2 separate regions of the Homo sapiens genome follow, and region 1 is linked to region 2. The links come from fine-mapping of genetic effects on gene expression. A gene starts in region 2. The other region holds a variant in brackets. All regions are shown on one strand. Distances are from middle to middle. Region 1 overlaps LINC01991 (long intergenic non-protein coding RNA 1991). Region 2 holds the start of BCL6 (BCL6 transcription repressor).

Evidence for each region.
Region 1: its variant is fine-mapped to the expression of BCL6 in whole blood (TOPMed, PIP above 0.99).

Annotation. Positions count from the first base shown.
Region 1 is chr3:187,961,493-187,969,824 of GRCh38, reverse strand. LINC01991 (long intergenic non-protein coding RNA 1991) reads left to right here. Exons shown (of 3, transcript NR_135538.1): 2 at 2,616-3,096. Among named protein-coding and RNA genes, the nearest start is that of LINC01991, 11 kb to the left of the region's middle. The variant G/A (reference allele first, on the strand shown) is at 4,853.
Region 2 is chr3:187,740,558-187,748,889 of GRCh38, reverse strand. BCL6 (BCL6 transcription repressor) reads left to right here and starts at 3,422. Exons shown (of 10, transcript NM_001706.5): 1 at 3,422-3,480. BCL6-AS1 (BCL6 antisense RNA 1) reads right to left here and starts at 5,221. Exons shown (of 2, transcript NR_173091.1): 1 at 4,846-5,221; 2 at 2,864-3,646. RefSeq lists enhancers at 3,784-4,309, 6,700-7,199, 7,200-7,701.

The sequences.
Region 1 (8,332 bases), 220 kb before region 2:
CGTGGCACAGGCGTTGATTTTGCCTCTAACCACAAGTCATACCCCAGTGCCCATCTTTAAATGGGAGACTCCTTTTATCTGAGCTTGCAAAATCAGATTCATGGGTTTCTACTAATAGTCCCTTGCATTTGTGTAGTTTGTAACGTGTTTTCACATCCCTCATCACTTCTGAACTGGGTATAATCTATTGGGCAGATGTCATCTACCCTTGGTAGGACAGAAGGGCCTGGAGATCTGACAGGTAATGTGACCACTCTCAGTGTCATAGGCCTGTAAGTGGCAGCCAGGGACTTGAACTGGGTCTTCACCTCCTTGTTCTGTGCTCCTTTCCTTTGTACTAGCTACCTTCACCTAGGACACTTGCAATGTCTGGAGATGAAGCCACTGTCTAGGGCGCAGAGAAGAGTTGCCTAGCAGCAGTGTAACATTGGAGTGTGACTTAGCCATTGACAGAAAAGAACAGACATGCTAGCTTGAGAGTATCCACACTTAACTGCTAGTCCCACTTTACTGATCCAATGCAAGGAAAGAAGTCTACTTTCACTTCTCCTCTGTCTTCCATCTTCTCTTTGTTTTTTTTTTTAAAAAAAAAATAACTTTTATGGGTACTTTGTGTCTTTAGGTCCTGCTGAGGGTTCTGAGCACAACAGATATTTGGAGTCTCCTGAATGATGTAGCAGTAATGCCCTGTTCCGCCTGTTGCATAACTCCCAGCCTCATACTGCCTGGTGATGGAATTATTGATTGTTAAGCATTTCACAACACATTTTCAAAACATGCTGAAGGTCAAGAATGGATGACTCATAGGCAGTAACAGTTCCTTCTGCCTCAGTCCCTCTACATGATATTGGTGAGGTTGGTAATGAAAGTCATTGAAGAAATTGAGGCAAAAGTTAACTCTGTCCAATCCTGGCCAGCAGGATTATTAAGTAACTTGAAAAAAATAATTCCTGATACTCTATTTATTTAGTGATTGATCTTCTAAATCAGTTTGTTTTGTTGTTGTTGTTTGATTGATTGATTTTTTTGAGACAGTCTTGCTTTGTCACCCAGGCTGGAGTGCAGTGGCATGATCTCAGCTCACCGCAACCTCTGCCTCCCGGTTCAAGTGTTTCTCCTGCCTCAGCCCCCCAAGTAGCTGGGACTACAGGTGTGTGCCACCATACCCAGAAAATTTTGTATTTTTAGTAGAGATGGAGTTTTGCCATGTTGGCCAGGCTGGTCTTGAACTGGCCTCAAGCAATCCACCTGCCTCAGCCTCCCAAAGTGCTGGGATTATAGGCGTGAGCCACCATGCCTGGCTTCACTTTGTTTTTTAATACCAAGTCTCATAAATAGTATAAAGTGGGAGTTAAGGGATTTCAGTGCTGATTTTGCCACTAACTTGTTCAAAAGCACCAGAGAGTACCACTGAGGTACTCAGCTGAGGAAAAACACTTAAATGATATCTAGGGAACTTTACTGCTCTGACAGTCTGTGATTGTACATTAGTACTTTAGACAGCAGAGAGATAAACCCTGATTCCGGTTTACAGATAATTACTCATCTCTCTGCCTGAGGCCAAGAAAAGCCCTCTGTGGAGCAGTGTGGAAGAATGCCTTAGAGCACAGTAGCAGAGAGTTCCAGACCCGGAGGCAAGGGGATCTGGGTTAACTCTCAACGTTGCCAACTGTGATTTGAATCTTCTGACAGGGTGCTGGGCCTGCTAGCATCTCAGTTTTCTCACCTGTAAAATGGAGACAATAACAGTGTGTGAGCTTTTTTTGGTACAAACGTTAATGCATGAAAAGACCTACAACATGTTTCCGCATGGGCTAGTTGAAAGTTTTGGAGGAAAAAATATCAAGCTGATAATTTTTAAATTTTTTTTTTTGTTTTGAGGCAGAGTCTTGCTCTGTCACCCAGGCTGGAGGACAGTTCCACGATCTTGGCTCACTGCAACCCCCGCCTGCTGGGTTCAAGTGAATCTCATGCCTCAGCCTTCCCAGTAGCTGGGACTACAGGTGCGTGCTACCATGCCCGGCTAATTTTTGCATTTTTAGTAGAGATGGGGTTTCACCATTTTGGCCAGGCTGGTCTCGAACTCCTAACCTTAGGTGATTCACCCCCTCCTCGGCCTCCCAAAGTGCTGGGATTACAGGTGTGAGCCACCTCGCCCAGCCGTAAAATTCTTAATATGTAAGTATTTTCTTCAAAAATGAATCTAATTTGCATAACTAAAGTTTCTGAATGCTTTATCTAGAATAATCATGGGACTGGAAGTTTCTTAATAGTTCTTCTCTAGGTTTTTGCACTTTAAATACCCTGCAGGTCTTTTCATTCTAATATAACATAATCACAGTAATAAGAAGTGTGACAAAGCTCTAGTAGTTCATGGTGCCTGTGCCTCATTCACTCGTCAGCGAAGCCTCCCTCAGCATCCCCTCCCCACATCCATCCCTGCACACTGCACCCTCTCCAAGCTGCTGCCAGCCGTGCTGCTCCCCTGCCTCCTTACTGGAGTGCAAGCCAGTAAAAAAGGAAGCAAATTCGGTTATGTAAAGCACATTCTGGGTAAGGAAAGGCAAGCATGTGTTTCTGCTTGACTGAAATTGGTTTTTTTTTTTCCCCACCAGTTTGTCCTCTTATCGGGATACGTCAGAAATTAGAGAGACCCTGGCAATCACAGCTTCCACCTCCTCATTTTACAAATGAGCAACTAGGCTCAGAGTACAGAAGTGGCTTTCCCAGGGTCACACAGCCAGCTTGTGACAGAGTCAGGATTCAAGTACCATCTCCTGACTTCTCCATTGCACCAGACGTCGATAGAACACAGAGAACCTAAAAGAAGAAAGAAAAAAAAATAGAGCTTTTGGGAATATATTGGGCTTCTGGTTTTCAAGGACAATTTTATGATAAGTAGCAATGATGCCTCAAAAGCTCTGGTAGCTAGCTTGAATGAACTTATGTAATAAACATTTATCACAGAACATGTGTCATCAAACACCTGCCAGTTCTGAGCGTTGGCACCAAAGCTGCTTTCATTGTCAAAGAAAAGAGGGGGAAAGGAACTTGGCTGAACAAAGCTGGCAGACGTTTATACTAGAAAATTTAGAGGTAATTTCTAGAGGAACAGAAACACATTTTCAAAGTCTTATAAAATTTATTTAAATGTGATTGGGTGAATTTAGCAGTTAAAGAAGTGAAGAACACTGAGGTCCAATTGGTGCCTGAGGCTTCTTCCAGGACCCAGTCTTTTCTGTCTGCCTTGGGCACAGATTTCTAGATGCCTGAAGATGGACAGGCCCAGAGGTTGCCCAGAGTGATGTCTGAGATTACTGATCTCTATCTAGGCTTCCATAGAAACACATCCCAAAACGTTCTTGGTTCTTATTGGAATCTCATCTCATTTGCAGAACATGGCCAGAGTCAAAGAGACATGGACCATGTGTCACTCAGACTGAGTCCATCCATACAAAGAGAATTCTCTAGCCTGTATTGGAAGTCAATCTACATCAGCATGACAGGGCATGTAGCCGAATACGTGGCCACTTCCCTTTGGCTACCCACACATTTTTGAACTGCAAGATCTGTTCTTTATCTACTCATCTAATGGTTATTACTGGGAGAGCACTGGACTATAAATTCTGTTGCACTTGCAGGTGTAATGAGCTCTTTGAACCTCAGTTTCCTCACCCATCAGATACTATTCATTATCTGCCTTGCGGACAACACCTAGTTGTTGGGAACATTGCATGAATGGCAGGTGGAGGTGCTTTGTAAACGCTAAAGCCTGCCATGAATGTGAAGGAGTGTTGCTACTCTTCTGTGCCCAACAATGTGCTAGCACCAAGGGAGTTCAAAAGAAATGTGAGACATGGTCCCTACCCTCCAGGAACTTACAACTCATTGTTGGGAGACCAAGACACATCCCCTAAAAACAGATATGTAACACCTCAAGTCTGTGAAGTACTTACTATTTAAATGATGCCCAGAGCCTCTGAATCCCCTAGAAGTACAGAGGAGGGGGAGATCATTAATGGTGTGGAGAAGTTGGAGGAGGTGAGACGATGCCAGGTGATAAAGTAGACAGAGAAGATGAAGGTCTTTTTTTTGAGACAGGGTCTCACCCTGTTGCCCAGGCTGGAGTGCAGTGGCATGATCGGCCCACTGCAACCTCCACCTCCTAGGTTCAAGCAATTCTCGTGCCTCGACTTCCTGACATAGCTGGGACTACAGGCGCACACCGCCACACCCGGCTAATTTTTGTATTTTTAGTAGAGACAGGGTTTCACCATGTGGGCCATGCTGGTCTCGAACTCCTGACCTCAAGCAATCCACCCACCTCAGCCTCCCAAAGTTCCGGGATTACAGATGTGAGCCACTGTGCCCTGGCCTGAAGAAGGTCTTTATGGGTACGGCATGACTGCTGGAGAGTTTTGTCACCGCTGCTTAAGGAAGAGCTTCCCAATGTTGGATATGTCTGTAACTTCATAATTTTTTTTTAATTTTGCGCTTTTGTGAATTTCCTCAATTGGCTTTCTTATTGGCCCCCAGGATCACACAGAACACTTCAAACTCCTCTTACGTGTTCTTGATTTCATCATTTAGCTGAAGATGCAGGCCCTGTCTTTCTTTCTGAGTTTTCCTTAGCACCCTCCTTTTAAATTACCTTTTTCATTGGTTAAATGCCATGAAACTTCATCAATTCTAGTTTTAGCTATCACTTGACCCAAAGACAAGAGAGTTGAATCCTGGACCTTAAAGAAAAAGAAAAAAGGAAAAAAAGCTTGTGGGAACCTTATTTACCTCAACTGGGGAAATTTTTTGCTCTTGCGCAAAGGTCAGGTCCCGTGAAACTTGTGAAATAGGT[G/A]TTTTTATCTCTTTTCTTTTCCAACTGATCAGATAGATATCTTTCCAGGAATTTGGTGTCAGAAATCAAATTCAATGAGTGGGAAGTTTGACAAGATTCAGGATAGTCTTGCCAAATAGCACAAGAGAGGAGGTAAAGTTAGGTCAGGTCAAGGGGGCAGCAAAAATGAAGTTTATAACAGATATACTGTATATTTGTCATGGGAAAGGGCTTCAGTCAATAGCAATTGATATTAATAAAACATAAAAGAAATGACAATAAACAATCAGGATAACTTTGAAACAACTTCTTTTTATGTAGGTAACATTAAAGAAAATTAAAGAAAAGGAATCGCTTTATTTTATAAAATAAATGCACTACTATTTGCAAAAAAAAATTTACCTAAAAATGCTGCTACTGAACAAACAAAACTACCCAAAATTAGAGAACAAAAGCATAAAAATTGTTAACAAATAAAAAAACTATATTTTTGAAAAGTCTTAGATGATACACAAAAAATGCAGATTTGTATAAATACACCATCGCCCTGGGATGACCTCTTATCATTGTCTAAGCAAGTTGTAGTGCCACGGTGTGTTTCAGACTATGCTATAGAAAATCTTTAGCACTCACCTTAAAAGTTTAAAGTAGAAAGAACAACCTTTAACAGGATCATAGAAAATGTTCCATCAGATCAAAACAAACAAGCAAACAAACTGAAGCAGGTCATTTTTCTCTTTTTGGCACTGTGCAGGACCATATGCTTCCAGAGATGGGAATTTAAAAATAGCCTGTCACACAGCTCACATTGTAATGCTGGGACATGATGCGGGTGGGAAAGATTGCCTCACACTTAATAATAGTGACACTTCACATTTACACCAACCTCTTTGCAGAGTAACCAAGAGTATTTCTCAGTTCTTTTTTTCCTTTAAAAATAATATGATCTTCTTGATACCCTGTAAGTGGAACAGGAGGGAGTACAATTCTTCCCACCTTACAGAGAAGGCGATTGAGGCCTCCAAAGGTAAAGTGACTCACTCAGGATTACAGAGTTACCCAGGGATCAGCACTGTGCTGTTCAAAATACACCAGGCTGCCAACTGCAGCAATATCCTGGGCCTGTGAGAACCGTGGGTTCATAGGATGTTGCACAAAAAAGAGAGAAATTTGCTTCCCATTGCCTCTGTTTTGAAATGTACTGCCTTTCATCTTGAGCATTTCATAAGTTTCTAATTTTAAGGCAAATTGCTTATAAGCCATGGTGACCTATATTAGCTGACATTTGAAATCAATCTCACACCAGTAAATGCCTTAGATTTGCATTTGGTACCCCCTTGCCGAGTCATAATAACAATGTAATTTCTCACATCTCCATAATTCTTTACACTTGAAAATGGTTGTACATTCACCATCTCATCAGATCTGTATAAGCAGCTATAATTTAAGCCAGGCCAGAGTTATGATGAGAGGGAACAGAGGCTCAGGATATGAAAAAAACTTTCTCATTTGGTAAAAGCCACAGAAACTGATGAAACCCAGGTCTTCTCTCTGCATGTGTAGGGTATTTTCCTGCCAGCCACACAGCCTTTTAGGTCTAAATAAAGTGTTGAGACTCCACTGCAAGTGTGTGTGCGCTCAGGAGTGACTCTTCTACCCAGTTTGGTGCCCAGCACTCAGTTCCTAATTGGCTGCAAAACCCTGAAGGGGGATTCTAGATGTGGCGGGCACCAGGTGAAGTCAGTAGTGAGCTTCCTTTTTGGAGGGAAGGAAAATTCTTGGCATACCGATGGGTCCAGGCAGACACTTTGGATATGTGTGGAGCCCAGTGATGTTGTGTTACTGGGTAGCCTTAAACCTTATTCCAACCTTGACTCCTTCTACTCTGTGCCATAAACTCTCTCCTTCCAATACCCCCCATTCCTCTGCTGCCTTCCCCTTTATCGTACCTGGCAAAACTGCAATCCTGGTGAAATGTATATCCTCTAATTCCTCCTTTGCTTGCATCCAAACAGTGGAATGTTGTTAAGAACATTGTAAACCATGCTGATCAGTTCACTTTAAATTTGTGATCACAAACCTGAAACGGACCGTGCCAGAGGATCCTATGATACATTTAGCAAATTCACTTTTTGGTTTCTGGGTCAACTCTTTCAAACCTTTAGCTCCCTACTTGAATATCCACTATGCTCTACACATCCCATGCCCTGGGATTATGACCTTCCTTTTTGCTATCAGAGGAGAGTTATTGCATTTTTCCTTAACCCACCTGCATCTGTGCCCACATACACTACCTCCCTCTTATTATAGTGGAGGAAGTGGCATAGTTTCTAAGGCCAACCCTTCCATTTGTCCTCTGTATCCCATCTCCTTTCCTATGCTTCTCTCTTGCAACATCAAATTCTGATGTTCCTTTACATCTAACCCATCAGCATACAAATATGCCTTTATAACAACTACTAAAAATAAAAAAAAACCCAGCTCTCCCTTGGCCCTACATGTCCCTTTAACTACCACCCCCTTTCTTTAATGCCTTCACAAAAAGACCTTTAAAAGTAAGATCTACATTTCCTGTCTCCACTTCTTTAGCTCCCTTTCTCTCCTCAACTCTGCTCTAATTTTCTTCAGACTCTATATCACTCCACTTAAACAGCCTTTATCAGAGTCACCAATGACCTACATATTTCCAAGGTCGAAGTGTATTCAGCTAACTGAACTATTGAGCTGAATTGGACATGGTCAATCCTTCATACTTCTTTAAACACTTTCTTCTCTAGGCTTTGTGATCCCACACTCACCTGGTTTGTCCTTACCTTTCTGTCTCCTTGTCTGGCTGTTTCTCCTCGACATCAGATTTTGGCGTGCTCTGGGGTTCTTATCTCTATTCTGTCTGTACTCTTCTTGGATGAACTCATTGAGTCCCCTGGCTTTAAAATACCATTTATACGCAGAAAACTTCAAATCTCTATCTCTAACTGACTTCTCCCTTGAGCTTCAGACTCCATAACTCTACTTGTATATGTAAAAAGCACTTCACACAAACTGTGACCCAAACCAAACTATTGATTTAGTCTTTCTCTACCCCGAATTCCTTCCCCTCAAGTCTTCCCTATCACAGTAAGTGCTACCTGGCCTCCTAGCTATTCGTTCAACGCAAATAATTGAGTCATTCTAATATTCTTTATTTCCCTGAAACCCTATGTGTAATCTCTCAGCAAGTCCTATTGACTTTACGTCTAAAATATATGTCAAATTAGACTATTTCTCACCATCTGCACTGCTGACTATCTTATTCCAAGCTATTATCATGTTTTTCCTGCCCACACTTTTTCCCTCTACAGTCAGCTCTTCATGCAGTAGCCAGACTGATCTTTCTAAAGCCATAAATTATAAGTTTATCTCTTTGCTAAACCCTCTTACCATGAGCTATAAAACCCTACATGATCTGGTCCCAACTGCCTGTTCAGCATCATCTCCCTCCACTCTCAGCCTCATCCATGA
Region 2 (8,332 bases):
CCATTAAATCATGGGACTAGTTGAAATGTAGTGCCCCGAAGTCTGCAGGAATTATTCATACGACCCCAGACATGGAATCACTCTTTAGAGCTTCTTAAGGATGATTTAAAAGAATCAGAATACGTTCAAGTCAGCCCTTTCTTTAATCCTGTAACACGGCACTGCGGGAGTGAGGGAGGCCCACATAGTGATGCCAACTGGATACTGAGGAGAGGTCAAGAATGAAAGAAGAAATGACATTCTGGAAGAAATTCAACTGGTATAATATTTGACAAAGTTACTTTCCTAGGAATTGAAAAGAGATTGAGAGGCGGGTGCACAATTTTCCTCACCATTCATTCAGTTCAAAGTAAAAGAGACTCACCGAAAAGTAAGTGCCTATCTTTAGAAAATTTTCAATAATGATTTTCTCTTTCTTTCTAACTGGTCTTCTGTTCTGGTCAATTTCTTTCAGTGTAAACACATTGATTTGGCAAAAAGCAGTAGGAAAATGTGGCACTCTGGCACTTGGTCCCAGAAATAATATGCTGGGAAGATTTGAGGTCCCTGGTGATGAGGTTAATTATATATGAACCAGCCCTGGTGGGTTCTCCCTCTAGGGGCTCACTGCAGAGAATTAAAGAGGGCTGAGGTATGAGAAGGGTGAATTCCTTCCCAGCCCCCACTCTGGCTGGTTCTACTACTGCCTTAGAGAGCAGATTTCCCTTTGCTCTGCAGCGCCCCCATGGGGCTAAGAGTGGAGTGGCAAAGGGAACACAGGAGGGACAAGCTGTGTTTCAGGTTGAGGGGGGCGGTGGATGAGGCTGAATGGCAGTTTTGACAAAGAAAAAAGTGACCAAAAATCATAAAAATAATCTTTTGAGGGCCCAATAGTAAGGCAGAGCCATACAATTCACATTCCAAACCATATAGATACGTCTGAGAAATCCTAAAGTGCTAATTGCTCATAAAAGAAAAAATTACACATATAAACACACAAAGAAAATCCCTTCCACAAAATCGGGGTGTCATTTTGCATCCAGCGGGATTCATTTTAATTTCTTTGAAAATGAGAAGGAAGGGGACTCAAATGAAAAAGCAGATAGTCTGCCTTCTGGCAGAATAAATCTGAACTTGACAATATCATGTGTCTTTGGGGGTAAAACGTACATTTCAACAACAGTGACAGGATTAGGCCTATGTATATTTTTCAAAAACCGTTCACAAGACAGGCTTTTCTGCAGAGGCTGCAGTAATCCATCTGTCAATAAGTATTAAAATATTCAGATTTCACAGGGACAGACACTTTAACGCATATTTCCTAAGCTCCAGCCCTTGTGGAAAATAATCAACCTCTTTGCACCTTTCTGGGTTTTAAAACCTAAAATACAGCCTTTAAAAATGTGTGTGTGTTGTGGGGTAGGGGGGTGCATTGCCAACAACATTTTCGGTGATAGATGGAACTTCTTACGGGACTGTCAATGAAAGAGATTTTCCAAATATCCCAGCAAACAGCAATCTTTCACAGCTCTGATCACTCCTCCATTATAAACCCAAATTTTGGGTTGAGATAGGTAGATTATTTTAGACATATCTTTATTAGAAATTAACAAGTGACGAGATTTTGTGGAAGCTTTAAGAATTCATCTGTAATTTAATAAGTCGCTTGAAGGACTCTCATAGCCAAGGCTCAGAACAGCCTGACCTTTGAAAGCTGCTTCTGGTCCAAACATTTTGGGCTAATTCTTGAGGAATCTGAAATATTATTTTCCCCTCACACCCTTCTTTTAAGAGAGAGACATAAAAGAAACAAGAGTCTCCCTTATTCAGGGATGAGTAGGAGGGGAAAAAACCCGAACCAACATTTAAATAAGGAAACTAGCAGCTCTGAACAAACAAACTAGGACCCACAATGAAATGATTCTGCACTGCAATTGCCTTTAAAAAGAAAGTAATAGAGAAAAAGAGAAGGAAAGAATTTCTCCTTCTTCTCTACCCCCCCCCCACCCCACCCCCCAACTCAGCTTCAAAGCTAAGAAGACTGTGCTGCGTGTAGTGCATTGTAGTTGTGGCAGTCTGTTCTAAATACAGGCAGTATCTGTGATACTGGCACGGCAGGCCTTTAGAATTCCCTCCGGCTGATCTCTTAAACACAGACTGAAGAGATTTTTTTACAACGACCTTGAAACGAGCCTCGAAAACAAAAATCTCAAGACCTTAAGAGAAAACAAAACACAAACAGGTATTTGGCTCACAGAATTTTGTAGAAAACACACACATACCACCCCGCCACCCCCACCCTCCCCCCCACACACACGTTTCTTGCAACAAGAAATTTCCCAAGAGTCAACAATAACAGATTAAACCCACCACTTGCTGTCCTGGAAAGAAACAAACCAAACCAAAACAAATCCTTTGAACATTTCTCTGAAGTGCAGGAGAGACACACTTCAGCAAAAGTCCAAGGGGGAAAAAGAAAATTGCACCAAAGGAAAAAAAAAAAAAAAAAGTGGGGGCTGGGATTGTTACATATGGCCAAAAATTTAAGCTTCTTTCAATAGTATTAGTATTGAAATAATACATCTTTAAAACGCTTGAGGGATTAGATAGGGAAAGAAAAGGCACGTACAAAAAAATCCAACCGATGCCGATCCTGTGATTTACGTAACACCACAAACTTGCAAAAGGCAAAAAATCAGAAGCAAAAATCCATAAACCATCAAAATACAGAAACCAAAAATCCCAAGCCACCACACCAGAAAGAAAAAAACCCAGAACAACAGCAAAAACCCCTGTCCTAAATAAAAATAAAGCAAATGAACCCACCGAAAACTGCTTGGCAAATATTTTTCTCGTGGTGCCTAATATTCTAGTTGGAAAGAGCTGTGATGTTTATTTTATTTTATTTTTCTCTTACTCGCCTCTCTAACCCTACTATATATATAACATACTTTTCCCAGTGGTTCAAACCTCTCGCTCCCTTTTGTGCATTTAGCTCGATCTGCTGAGTTTATGGGTAAGAAAGAAGGAATTAGCCCCAGACCCCGGGAAAGCAAAGCGCACTCCCCCTCTTATGTCACCGAATAGCAAATTAGTTCTCAGAATTCCAGAGGCCGAGCTTTGCTACAGCGAAGGCGCCGACGTCACAGAGGAGGAGCCCACGTGATGGTGGCGGAGCAGGCCATACCATCGTCTTGGGCCCGGGGAGGGAGAGCCACCTTCAGGCCCCTCGAGCCTCGAACCGGAACCTCCAAATCCGAGACGCTCTGCTTATGAGGACCTCGAAATATGCCGGCCAGTGAAAAAATCTTGTGGCTTTGAGGGCTTTTGGTTGGCCAGGGGCAGTAAAAATCTCGGAGAGCTGACACCAAGTCCTCCCCTGCCACGTAGCAGTGGTAAAGTCCGAAGCTCAAATTCCGAGAATTGAGCTCTGTTGATTCTTAGAACTGGGGTTCTTAGAAGTGGTGATGCAAGAAGTTTCTAGGAAAGGCCGGACACCAGGTGATTATTGCTGTTGCTGCCGCCGCTGCTGCTGCTACTGCCGCCGCCGCCGCTGTTGCCGCTGGTGCCGCTGCCGCCGCCGCTGCTCATGATCATTATTTTACCTTTTAATTCTTTTTTTTTCCGCTCTTGCCAAATGCTTTGGCTCCAAGTTTTCTATGTGTATCTATTGATATAAATGTATATATTTATTTATTCTAGCTGTCAGGTGTTAAAATAAATGCCGAAGATTAGTCCCACGTCTCTCCCACCATAGGATATAGATTGTTATGTATTTATTATTATTATTGTTGTCTTTGAGTGAATCGGCCGGTTTGGGGAGGCTTTTGCCACCCTCCCTTGTGTTGTTTTGGTTTTTGGAAAGGAGGTGGAGGAGAGGAAGGAGGGGAATTAGGGGGCGGCCGGAGCAGAGAGGACGAGACAGTGCTTGGGGGGTGATTCGGGCTAGTCTGGGGGCTGTCTGGCCCCAGACCGCGGAGAGGACGCGCGCTCGCGCTCTCGCTCTTTCTGCTGCTGCTTGCGTACGGCTTGTGATCTCTCTGGATTCGTGCGGCTGTGTTTTTTCCCTCTTTTCTCGCTTGCAAACTGCTTTCCTTGCTCCGTCGCTCCTGGCCTCCGCTTCCCTCCCTCCTCTTTTTCCTCGCCTCTTCTTCCTTCCCTTCCCCTGTCCTTCTGGGTAACTCCGGGAGGCAAAAAGGGAGGCTGCCCGCTCGCTCGCCCCGCTGGCTCTCTTCCATCGGCCTCGGTCTTTTAGATTCCCTGCCTTCGAGCCGAACCGAGATTTGGAAGGAAAAAATGCAAGCGAACTCTTTGGGTTTTTGTTTTTGTTTTTTTGGTCATAAATCCAGATGAGATGAAGTATCGTGTCTACTATTTCCTTTCAGAGCCGTGATCTTCCTAATGAGAGCCGAGTGTTTTGGTGTTCCCTGCCCCTGTGTTTTGGGGAGCTTGGGGGCGGGGATGTTGAACACTTTGAAAATTATTCTTTCTTGGTTGTAGTCGAGGGAGTCGGGAACCTCCGCGCGCTCTCCCTGCTCATCCCGAGGAGAGAGACTGATGGCGGGACAGGGCTTCTTGGGGTGGGTGGGAAAGGGGTGCGCACTGCACCTGCGATGCCTTTCAGTGTGCGGGGGGACTCAGGGAACCTCGACAGGACAGCCTGGGAGAACGAGAAAGGTGGCGGGATTTCTGGCCGCTGCGGTGTTTGTATTTTGGGCGCTGCGTGACTCTGTGTTGGCTCCCAATGGCTGTTGCCTCCCTTTCCTAAATTTTATTTTATTTTTTCCCATGGTGCAAGCTCTGTAAAAAGGGAACTGCGGGCCTGAGCGTAGTGGACGCCAGGCTTCAGATTCCCGAGGTCCTTACCTTGGGCGAGGAGAAAGACGAACAGAGCCCCAGCCCGCGTTCCTTATGTGCAAGACTCAGGAGGAGAGAAGGGCACTTTGTGGCCGTGGCTGAGGGGACCCGGCGCGGGAGGAGCGGGCGCGGGCGCGAAAGGGAGATCTTTGTGAGTGATTTTGCAAAAATAGATTGCGAGGTTGGTTGGATTTGCAACCTGTGGCTCTCCTCGAGGGAGTAAGAATGGGGGAAGGCGCGGCGGCGGCGGCCCGGGGAGGGAGTGGGTAGAGTTGGAGCCTCAGAAATCGGCTGAGCTCCGGGGGCGGGCGGGGAGAAAGGGCGGGGGGGCAGCAGGAGCTAGGGGCCACCCCGCTGCCGGATGTAGTGACCGTGGTAAATGTCTTGAGAACTGTGGGTTGCGTTGCCTTTATGATGCCGTGTTATTGGAACCCTGGCGAAAAATGGAACTAGTGTTGCAATAATGAGTTTTAAAGCTCCCCCATGGAAAACAAAAACACAACCAAACCGATTTTTTAAAAAAATGAAAAAAGACCCTCTGTGTTGTGTTCCCTTCTACGATGGTTGTGTTGGTGGCTGGGGTTTGGGGGTGGGGGGTCCTGACAGTTGAGCAGATAAATGACCCCAAACCAGGTGCTGAAAGTCCCAAGCTGTCACAGGGCCCCTGACCACCTCAGAGAGCCAATCTCCACTCCGCGCCCCCTCCCCGCCGGCCCCCGCCACCCCACAACCCGCCAGGATTTAATCTTTTATGGATTTTTTTTTCAGTTTATAGTTTCCAGGAGGAAAGTCTTGTAACGCTTTACTTTTTCTCTTCTTTTTTTAAAGTAAAGTGAGTGTCAGTAGATGTGTTTTTTACAGTCTGGATTTTAAAAAAAGTGGGGCAGGAGAGAGGGAACCAGGGAAAGGGCTGTTTAGAAATACAGTTTGTGGCTCTGAGCGATGCCACCGGCTTCCTCTACAGAGACTGCCAGTTTCCCTTTTTCTTTGCAAGGTGTGTGTGGTTTTAATAAATAACTTAAAAAAAAAAAGAGGGGGCGGCAAGATCCATCAGGAGACAGGTATCTATTTTGCTCACTATTTACTACCAAGAGCCTTTGGCACTAGAACAGAACCTCGTAAATCTGCAGCCCAAGTTGAAGTTCATCTGGCCCTAGTCCACACGCTATTCCTGGAGGTAGCAAACATGAGCTCAAAGAAGAGAGATGAAATCACATTCTTGCTTTAAAATATATACTTTTTTAAAAAAGACGAAAAGATATTTGTCTCTGGGGGAGGAGGAAATGGCGAACAAGTACCAGGAGATGGGCATTCCCTTACTCTAATGACTGCAGTTGAGTCTTCAGGCCAAAATAGAAACCTGTAGATGGCAACTCTCTCTCCACCTCCCCGCCCCGCCCGCCACCCCAAGCTTATAAATAGAAGTTTCCAGTATCCTATTTGGAAGACTTTCCAATACTAGAGGCCGAAGCATTGGCTAGTTTTAAGGGTTGTTGATAGTGACAGTAAGGCTAGATGCTGTTCATAAAAACTGGGCGACTTGAAGGAGACAGCCAGAAAAAGTGGGAATTCTCCAATTGCCCCTTTCTTCTTTTCAGTTTTGAAGGGTTTTATACCAATGCTTTCTTGAAAAGACTAACTTATTCTGGGTTTGGTGGATAGGGATGGGACTCTAAATGCTTAAGTTGTCGTTTGCTGAGCCCTTGAAGAGTTCCAGTTATTGGTTGAGTAAATGGTAGCCACGGCTAGATGTCAAAACCCTTCCTTCCCTCTATCCCCTACAGGGTAATGACACTCACAACCCACTTTGTTGTGAAAAACTTAAGAGATATAGAGGAGGCGGTGCAGCAGCGCCACCCCTCGGTGGGTGAAACTATTGGCAAAAGTCAATTTTTGAAAAATATTGGGAAGTGAACTTATGAAACATTTTTCCCCCAGAGATTTAAAAAAAATAGGGGAGATAAAACTAACGGATAAAAAGGACTTTGAAGTTTATCAAGTAGGGAAGAAAAATGTTGCTTTCCAACTAGGATGGTGTTATAATAGGCAACGTGGTTCTAAGGTTTTTTTTTTTGGTGGGGGGAGGGTGCCTGGTTGATTTTAAGTAGAAGAGTTCTCCAGGCGGAGGTAGCCCGGCCTTCCCCTTGGATTGACTTCTCAGGGCATCTTAATTCTGCTGCCTGTCTGATACCGAGATAGTGAGGGATGTTTTGGTGTAAAACACCATAGTGGCTGGAAATGCTGTAGTTTTGCCGGCGGTGGCAGGACGTATGTGTAGGGGGTGTGTTGAGGAGGTTTGTGGATGGCGTGGAGCAATGGTAGGCTGGTCTGTAGCCCTCTGTGAATCAACATCGAATGGCGCGTGCCGGTTTCCAGCACTGCGCAACAAGTGGGACCGCCGCTGCCGCCGCGAGCACAGCGAGGGTGCAGCGTGGTGGCAGAACTGGCTGGTTTCTCTTTGCCCCAGTGGAAACCAGGAACGGCCCCTCCCAACCCTCCCGATGTCCACTCCGAGACCCACAACTTCACCAAAAGACCATACCCGACTCCCCACTCCCCCGCTTTGCCAGGCGCAGTGAGCCTGAGTGGGATCCAGCACTCGGCCCCCAGCGCCCCTTTCCTCCGAGAAGATCAGGAGTTTATTCCCGACTTTCTTTGCTGGATGACCAGTGTTTGGCAAGAATCTCTGCCAATACTGTCGAGTGCCATTCTGCCTTTTGAAGACAAGTGCACCTTCTTTCCCTTCCCAGTACATAAAGCTTTTCGGAGGCTGGGGGAGAAATCAACTTATGATACATGAAACCAGCTCCAGATACCGCGTTGTGGTTGCTAGAGGCGGGAGCATCGGGAGGAACGGAATTACATACACTAAATTAAATGTTTTCTAGCTTTGCTTTTAGAGGCAATCACACCCCCAACCCTCGCCCCCACCAGACAGAAAATAAAGAGGGGCGGGTAGGGATCGGTGTGGAAGCTGCGGCCGCGCGGCGATTCTCGGACGGGCTGGCCTGCCACCTAGCGGTGGGCTGAGATCGAGTTCGCGGCCATGGGCGGTGGGCTCGCCGTTCCACCTCCCGGGCGGCGGTACCCTGACCAGATGCTAGGACTGACAGAAGGAGGGCACCCTCCAATGGGGATGGCATACAACCTCCAAAGTTTTGGCAAGAGGGATGAAAATCAGAAAGGCCTCGCTGCTTGCCCATCACTCAGCGATGAGCATCTATTTGCACTAAGAAAAACCACAAATAACCCGCTTCGAACACACCATCTTCCTGTCCCTGTGGCCCCTCTTAGGGGAAGTCGGTAGTGGAAGGATGCCACCTAGGAGCTCAGGGGCTTTGGGACGTACAACTCTGTTTTGCAGTTGAGGAAACAGGCCCGACGAGGAGGCTTGTTAGTGGTGAGTTAGTGACTTAACCAGGACCAGATTTTAAGCTTCTGAATTTCATGTCAGTGACTGAAAGCCAAAGGCGGGTTTATCTCAGCTCCTTAGAAG